2 linked regions of the Homo sapiens genome follow. Changing the gene in region 1 together with any one later gene gives a genetic interaction. Each region holds a gene or a part of one and is shown in the gene's direction. Other genes may lie near its edges. The genes, in order: ERBB3 and NPY4R.

The links.
Region 2: changes in ERBB3 (region 1) and NPY4R together harm fitness less than expected from each alone (positive genetic interaction), as found in Homo sapiens cells (one large-scale study listed by BioGRID).

What each region holds. Positions count from the first base shown.
Region 1 is NC_000012.12:56,093,533-56,097,341, forward strand, and holds part of ERBB3 (receptor tyrosine-protein kinase erbB-3 isoform 1 precursor), read left to right. Parts: coding exon 1-18; intron 19-231; coding exon 232-364; intron 365-566; coding exon 567-657; intron 658-869; coding exon 870-1,024; intron 1,025-1,724; coding exon 1,725-1,778; intron 1,779-2,132; coding exon 2,133-2,274; intron 2,275-2,970; coding exon 2,971-3,090; intron 3,091-3,215; coding exon 3,216-3,314; intron 3,315-3,512; coding exon 3,513-3,698; intron 3,699-3,809. UniProt on the Homo sapiens protein: Tyrosine-protein kinase that plays an essential role as cell surface receptor for neuregulins.
Region 2 is NC_000010.11:46,462,981-46,467,276, reverse strand, and holds the start of NPY4R (neuropeptide Y receptor type 4), read left to right. Parts: upstream 1-1,318; 5' UTR 1,319-1,599; intron 1,600-2,544; exon of another isoform or gene 2,545-3,391; 5' UTR 3,392-3,547; intron 3,548-4,296.

The sequences.
Region 1 (3,809 bases):
GGCCGCGCAGAGACTGCGGTGAGGGAAAGGGTCTGCTAGGTGGTGAGAATAGGGAGTCAGGGAGGAGAGGGCTGAAAGGACTATTCTGCCCTAGACGTGGGAGTAGGGTTGAGGGATGGAACCAAGGAGAAGGGGGCTGTTAGGCTGGAAGCAGTAACGAGGAAGAATAATGAAGAGAGGGCTTGCTGGGAGTCCTCAGACTCCTCTCCTAACCCACCCCTTCCTTTCCAGTGGCAGAGGGCAAAGTGTGTGACCCACTGTGCTCCTCTGGGGGATGCTGGGGCCCAGGCCCTGGTCAGTGCTTGTCCTGTCGAAATTATAGCCGAGGAGGTGTCTGTGTGACCCACTGCAACTTTCTGAATGGGTACAGTAAGGGGAGCCAGTCAAGGATGGGTGGGGGTGGGGCCCTGCAATGGAACTGTTCAGGTGGCATACAATAAAAGTCTTTAGACAGCTTTCTGCATGTGCCTTGGTGGGATTGAGGTAGGAGACCTGTGGTTGTGAGATCGGAGCATGAAGGTCAGGACTTGGAAGTGACCCCCCCCTCCCTTTATTCCCCACTACAGGGAGCCTCGAGAATTTGCCCATGAGGCCGAATGCTTCTCCTGCCACCCGGAATGCCAACCCATGGAGGGCACTGCCACATGCAATGGCTCGGTATACTAGTAGCACCAGGATCTCCAAGGGAGACAGAGAAGGGGCAATACTTGGAGCATCTGGGGAATGATATGGCTAAGGATAGCACAGAGAGGCCAGATAATGCTAGGGCCTGCAGATAGAAGATCCTGAATGTCTGGGTTGGTCTTTGCTGGGAGGTATGGAATTGACCTTGGGATCTGATTCTTCCTGACCTTCTCTCTTCCACTCAGGGCTCTGATACTTGTGCTCAATGTGCCCATTTTCGAGATGGGCCCCACTGTGTGAGCAGCTGCCCCCATGGAGTCCTAGGTGCCAAGGGCCCAATCTACAAGTACCCAGATGTTCAGAATGAATGTCGGCCCTGCCATGAGAACTGCACCCAGGGGTCAGTGATGGGATAATAAGGAGAGGGGGTCAGGTGGAAGGGTAGGAGCACAGAACTAGAGTGAGGGAAGCAGAAAGAAGAGAGAGGCTGTGATTCAAGAATCACTCCCAGCTGGCCGGGCGCAGTGGCTCACACCTGTAATCCCAGCACTGTGGGAGGCCGAGGTGGGTGGATCACCTGAGGTCGGGAGTTCGAGACCAGCCTGACCAATATGGAGAAACCCTGTCTCTACCAAAAATTTAAAATTAGCCCGGCGTGGTGGCGCATGCCTGTAATCCCAGCTACGCGGGAGGCTGAGGCAGGAGAATTTCTTGAACCCAGGAGGCAGAGGTTGCGGTGAGCTGAGATTGCATCATTGTACTCCAGCCTGGGCAACAAGAGTGAAACTCTGTCTCAAAAAAAAAAAAAGAATCACTCCCAGCTGTGTAGCGAAGGATTGGAGAAAGGGAAAATCAGTAACAGCACAAAATTACACCACAGTTTTGGGAACCTGGAATAACCTCAGTTCAAGGGAGTTTCACAGAAGAGGGGCTTGGGGAGAGCTAGTGAGCTGGAGGTGGAGGCCATGTCTTGGGATCAGCTCTGGGCTCCAGGATGGGATGCCACGGTAAGTTCTGAAACAAGCTTTTATATGTTAGGCTGTTGAAATTGAGCCTCTGCTGTCCAAGCTCTCATTTAAGGTGGTGACTTTCTTCCCTAGGTGTAAAGGACCAGAGCTTCAAGACTGTTTAGGACAAACACTGGTGCTGATCGGGTATGATGGGGTTGGAGATTCTGGAAACTGGGGATATTTGGGAGTTGGGAGAGAGGTGGTTACCTGGAGAGAAGAGGGAGGCTGTCTTCATTCTGGCCTTTTATGTATGCAGTCCACTATCACTGGACACTTGGGACTCAAGAATGCAGGCTTCTGGACTTCCCTTCCTAAAATTAACTTTCAGTAGTCTAAGACTGGTCCAGATTTAGGTTGGTCCCTTCAGTGCTTAAGGATATATATGTGAATGTTAATTTCTTGCCCCAGGTCAGCATCATACCTTCAACACAAGTATAGTTGACATTTGTAAGGAAGATGCAAACCCAGGATAATGTTGGGTTTCTATATATCCCATAGCAAAACCCATCTGACAATGGCTTTGACAGTGATAGCAGGATTGGTAGTGATTTTCATGATGCTGGGCGGCACTTTTCTCTACTGGCGTGGGCGCCGGATTCAGAATAAAAGGGCTATGAGGCGATACTTGGAACGGGGTGAGGTGAGTACTTAGCTTACTTTTGTTTTTTCTTTTCTTTTTTTGCATGTCCTGGAAGTCTCTTTATAGCTTAATTTTGAGTGGTACCCTGTGCACCCAGGGGTCAGTGATGGGATAAATGTCACTCCCCTCCTCTTTCCCCAGAGATTTGATCCCTTTCTTCAAGGAAGTAGTGTGGTCCCCTAGAAGAACACTGGTCAGAGAAATGGGAGGCATGCATTCTAGTCCTGATTTTGCCATTAATTTGCCACATGACTTTGAAGAAGTTACTTATCTTCTCTGTGCCTCGGTTTATGCATCTATACAGAGGAAATAACATTTGTCCTTCCAGGATGGCTGTAAGGGTAAAGGGGGATGATGTATGTGAAAGTGCTTTGGAAAGCACAGAGCACTGTATAAAAGGTACTCAAGGTGGTAATAGTACTACCAACTCTCCCTAGCTGTCCCCTTCCCCACTTTGTGCTCCTCCATCAAAGGGAAAACCCAACCCCTTTGATTCCTGATCTCATGAGCACAAATAACTTCCTCAGTTCTCAGGGTCTGTACCTCAATATGCCTATAATCCATTCCAGGACTAACGGTGCTTCCTCTTCCTGCCCTTTCAGCTGTGCTGCTTTTGGCATTCACCTATGAGGAGCGGGTTGGAGTGGGACATGGGAATGGCCTTTCCTGAGTAACTCCTTCCCATTTGCTCCTCAGAGCATAGAGCCTCTGGACCCCAGTGAGAAGGCTAACAAAGTCTTGGCCAGAATCTTCAAAGAGACAGAGCTAAGGAAGCTTAAAGTGCTTGGCTCGGGTGTCTTTGGAACTGTGCACAAAGTGAGTGACCCATAGGAATTCTGGAGAGGTGGGGAAGGCATCTAGGGCAAAGGGGTGAAAGATTTTTGCATAGGATTGACCTAGGGAGAATGACCTTATGCCAACTCCTGCCCCAAACTTCCCAGGGAGTGTGGATCCCTGAGGGTGAATCAATCAAGATTCCAGTCTGCATTAAAGTCATTGAGGACAAGAGTGGACGGCAGAGTTTTCAAGCTGTGACAGATGTAAGTGAAGGAAATTCTGTATGCCGCTAGGAGAGAGGACAATATTAGATACAATCATGTAGAAGCAGGGTCCTGTGCTTCTCAGCAGCTACTATGTTAGCCAGAATGTTGGGGGTGGGGGGGCCTGGGCTGGCTGTGCACATGCTGAGTGTATGTGAACCTGTTGGTTTCCTAGATAATACCTTTTGTGTCTCTTAGCATATGCTGGCCATTGGCAGCCTGGACCATGCCCACATTGTAAGGCTGCTGGGACTATGCCCAGGGTCATCTCTGCAGCTTGTCACTCAATATTTGCCTCTGGGTTCTCTGCTGGATCATGTGAGACAACACCGGGGGGCACTGGGGCCACAGCTGCTGCTCAACTGGGGAGTACAAATTGCCAAGGTGAGAGAAGCCTGGAGGAATTCTGTGATAAGAACTGCTTGTCTGGGGGCCAGCCAGGAAAAAGTGAGAAGGTTGAAGTTCTGAGAGGTGAGGTCCCCAACCCCCGGGCTG
Region 2 (4,296 bases), on another chromosome or scaffold:
GTTGCTCAACCACTGAGTGTCACTTTGCTTCATCAGCACGATGGGAATAAAAATGCCCACCTCTCAGAGCTGTTGTGATGATTAACTAAGGTAGTGTCTGCAGAGTCTCTGCACTACAAACGGCAGCTGCCATTCTAGAGGGACCACTGCCATGACTTCATGGGGACATTTCCATGGGGAGCCACAGGAGGTTCACTGGACAGGTGTGTATGTCCAGTGTTTAGGAGGTGCTCTTGAAGCAGATCTGTTACTCTCAGGAGGTTCTCTAAGCGCATATGTGACTTTGCCATGTGGGGATGGGGGGCAGGGAATTATAAGCTAGTGTATTCAAAACAGGAGCAGCCCTTGTAAGCAAAGCTGTTCCATTATAGCCAAGTCATGTGCATCTCAGCTCCAAAGGAGAAAGTGACCATTCTCATTGAATTCTCATCGCCACAACCTTGGGACTGCCTGAGATAAGACACTCCACTTCCAGGGCCCACCCTGAGTTTTCACTCACACCCTGGATGCCCATCTCCTTCCCTCACCCTGGCTGACATTCTCAGCCACACTGCCCTCCCCTGGTCTCCAGGGGCTGAATGCTCCCAGCCTCAGGGCTTTTGCCGTGGCTGTGCCATCCATCTGGCCTATCGAACCCATTTGCTCACAGCATCTCACCCCCTGTAATAATTTATTTCCCTCTTTCCTTGTACCCTGTCTGTCTTCTCCCCCAGGGCTGAGAGCTCCAGAAGGAACCAAGGACAGGGAGCCTGTCTTGTCCAGCTCTGGTGCCCAGCAGGAGAGCCAGGCTCATAGGAGGTCTGCAAGTAATGTTTCTGGACGAACTTATGAAAGGCAGGTCTTTTTATACCCATTTCATGGATGAGGAAACTGAGGCAGAGAGAGAGAGAGACAGGCAGACGCACACACCCCTAGACAGAGAGAAACACTCCTGGAGAAAGAGAAAGGGAGGGAGAGAGGGAGGGGGAGGGAGGGAGAGAGAGAGAGAGAGAGAAAGAAAGAAAGAAAGAAAGGAAAGAAAGAAAGAAAGAAAGAAAGAAAGAAAGAAAGAAAGAAAGAAAGAAAGAAAGAAAGAAAGAAAGAAAGAAAGAAAGAGAGAAAGACAGCGCAGCTCCAGCCTGCCTGTATCCAGGGTTGAGGTGGGCGTGAGAGACACACGCAGGCAGGGCTGCAGTTCCGGGCAGGCCTTGGGGGCTCAAGATGCGGCTCCCCAGGGCGAGTGCTGGGGTCCCGGGGCAGGCGGGCGGCTGGAGCCCTCTCGTGGGCGGGCGCAAGGGGCAGGCTGGGCGGGCGCAGGCGGGAGCGTAGCAGCCGCTCCACTCCGCACGCAGGCAGCATCGGGGCAGCAGGAGCAGGTGAAGCAGGCGCGGCTCTGCCCCGCGCCTGGTGCCCCCTGGGCACAGGAGTGCGGCCGGGGGCGGGGCCGAGTGGGCCCCGGTACGAACCCTCCGGGAAGCCGGGCGCGCTGCCTGCCCTTGGCCCGGGGCGCAGAGCGTCACACTGGATCTGGGGAGCATCCTACCCCCACTGTGGACCTCAGTCTCCTCACCTGAGACATGGGCGGCCCCATCCGCACCCTGTAAGCCGCAAGCCAAGGAGGTAAGGGGTGCATCTGAGGTGTCTGGGCGCTATGGGCATTAGGATATAGTAGCTTTTGCTGAGATTTCAGGAGACAAAGCAAAGGGCCTTCCCTATTCTAACCCCACTGGGAGATTAGCATTGTGTGTATGATTCATTAATTTTCCTCTGATTGACTGGGAAGGCAGGCTGCAGGGGGTCCCTGTTGGGGCTTGCAGCTGGTTCTAGTTTTTGTATCTGGAGAGCTGCCTGGGGACAAAATGCAGAGACACCATTTTATTGACCTTGCGTAATAATCTACCCTCCCCCTCATACACTCGCCACCCCCTTGGGTGTGCCTGAGGGACTTGAGGTCCCCTGGTCCTCACTGGTCAGTGTACCCCAAGCCCAGCAGCCCCAGGCAGATGCCCAACACCACCTTTTCAGTGCTCCTCCTCCTCCTGTCTTGGCCCTCTCTGCCAATCCATTTTCTATATCCAAGTGATCTTACTGGAATGGACCTGACCTTGCTGGTCTGGCCCACCACTCCAGCTTCATCATCTGCCACCCTGGAACCTCTTATTCTGCTTACTTTTCCCAGCAGGCTCTGCTCCTTCCTGCCTCTGTGCCTTTGCACATGCTGTTCCTTGCACTTCGAGTTCCCTCCTCTCCCTGTCCCTTTGGCTGGTTGACTCCTCTTCAGCCTTTGAGCCCTGTACCATTGCCACCTCTTCTCTCACCTCCCTGCTCCCTGCTCCTTCTCTGATCTCTCAACTCACAGGCCTCTCTTTCATATTGGTGTTGGCAATGGCAATGAGTTCCATCTGCATTCGTGCTGGTCAGCCCCTCTGCTCTGGGAGGGCCATGACTGTATAAGTCATCTTTGCAGCCCTTGTTTCTAGCCCAGGGCTTGACACACACTTATTGAGTGGGTGAATGAAGCAGTGAGCATTTTCTGGAGCCCTCCCAGCCCAGTCCTTCCACTCTGATCCTGCTTTAGGTGGTTGGTTTGGGATGAATGGTGTTTCTCCACACCACTGGCCAAGCCTTGCTGATGGTCACCCAGAGCCTTGGGTTCTGGCCCATTTGCTGCTTCTGAGTGCAGTGCCTCTGCCACAGGTTCATGCAGCTGCGACTGTTCTTTATCTTATATTGGGCCCTGTGTTTGGCTCTGGAATAGTTTATTTTGCCATGTTCAGCCCCAAATGGCCCTTTTTGCCCGAAGACCATAGTGCTGGAGAAATCTTCCTGCCTTCGAGATCTGGTTCCTAAATAACCAGACTGTAAACTATCAGGTGAATTCACAGCTTGATCTTTTAAATGACCAAATGAGACTCTTTTTTTTTTTTTTGAGACAGAGTCTCGCTCTGTTGCCCAGGCTGGAGTGCAGTGGTGCACTCTCTGCTGACTGCAACCTCCGCCTCCCAGGTTCAAGTGATTCTCCTGCTTCACCCTCCCATGTAGCTGGGACTACAGGCATGCACCACCACACTTGGCTAATTTTTGTATTTTCAGCGGAGACGGGGTTTCACCATGTTGGCCAGGCAGGTGTTGAAGTCCTGACCTTAGAAACTCATCTTTATAAGTAGATCAGATGCACAGCAAGTGACATTCATGACAGCCGACAAATAGATTTTACTGAGCTCTGGTTGATTTTGGCCTTGTGCTCTGCAAAAACTGCCTTAACATAGCAATTGATCATGTAAAAAATACATATGGCCATGATATGAGACTTAAAGAATATCTCAAATAGGGTTTTCTGCTATAGTGTTTTACAAGATGGGGTCCAAGGGCCATGTGCATCAGAATCACATAGTCTACTTGTTAAATACAGATTCCTGGCCCCCATCCTGGATTCACTTAACTACATCTCCTGGTGGAAGGGCCCTGGGATCTGCACTTTCAACATGCTTCTAGAATGATTCTGATGTTTACTGAAGGTTGAGAACTGCAACCCTGTGGGATTAATAATGACTAGAGAATCTGAGAGGTGAGTCACAATGATGTATGTAGTGGTATGGTGCTTCCCATGCAAAACATCCATCATTGGCACTAACACGGGGGAACTCTGGAGTCTAAATTCCAACTCAGTCTTGGCAGGGGGTCCGTTGTGCTGAGGAGGTCCTCGGAGAAGGGACAGCCTGTACCAGGGCATAGAGATGTGGAAGAGTCTGGTGTGCTTGTGAGCTGCACACTGCATCAAGTGACTTGAACATAGTCATGGAGTAGGTTCTGTGGAGGGCACTGGGCACCTGTGACTTTGGCCAGGTATGTCTGTGCACATGGTGGGTAGTAGGAAGAAGCTGGTGTGCTGATGAGCCAGGCTTTGCATACTGGGCAGTCTTCAGTTTTGCCAGGTATCACCTAAAAAACAAGGCTACCAGGGCAGGGAGGGGCTGAGACCAGGAGGGTGCACTGATTGTGGATCCCCGAGGCTTTAGCTCTATCTTGAAGGGAATGGGGTGCCGTGGAAGGACACAAGCAATCCTGTGCAGAGTGGCATTTATTGCTGTCTCCATTAAGATAAAATGTGACAAGGGGCATTCTACCCATGTTCCCTGAACAATTCCGTCACTAAAGTCTGCATACAGCACTCCAACTTCTTTATCATCAGAACAGCCTCATCCTGAGGCCGGAGGGAATTAGTAGAACAAGTTCTGGCATTAGATGACCTGAGTTTGTAACTGGGCCCTGTTACTAATTAGCTGTGTGACTATGGGCAAGTTGCTTTCCATCTCA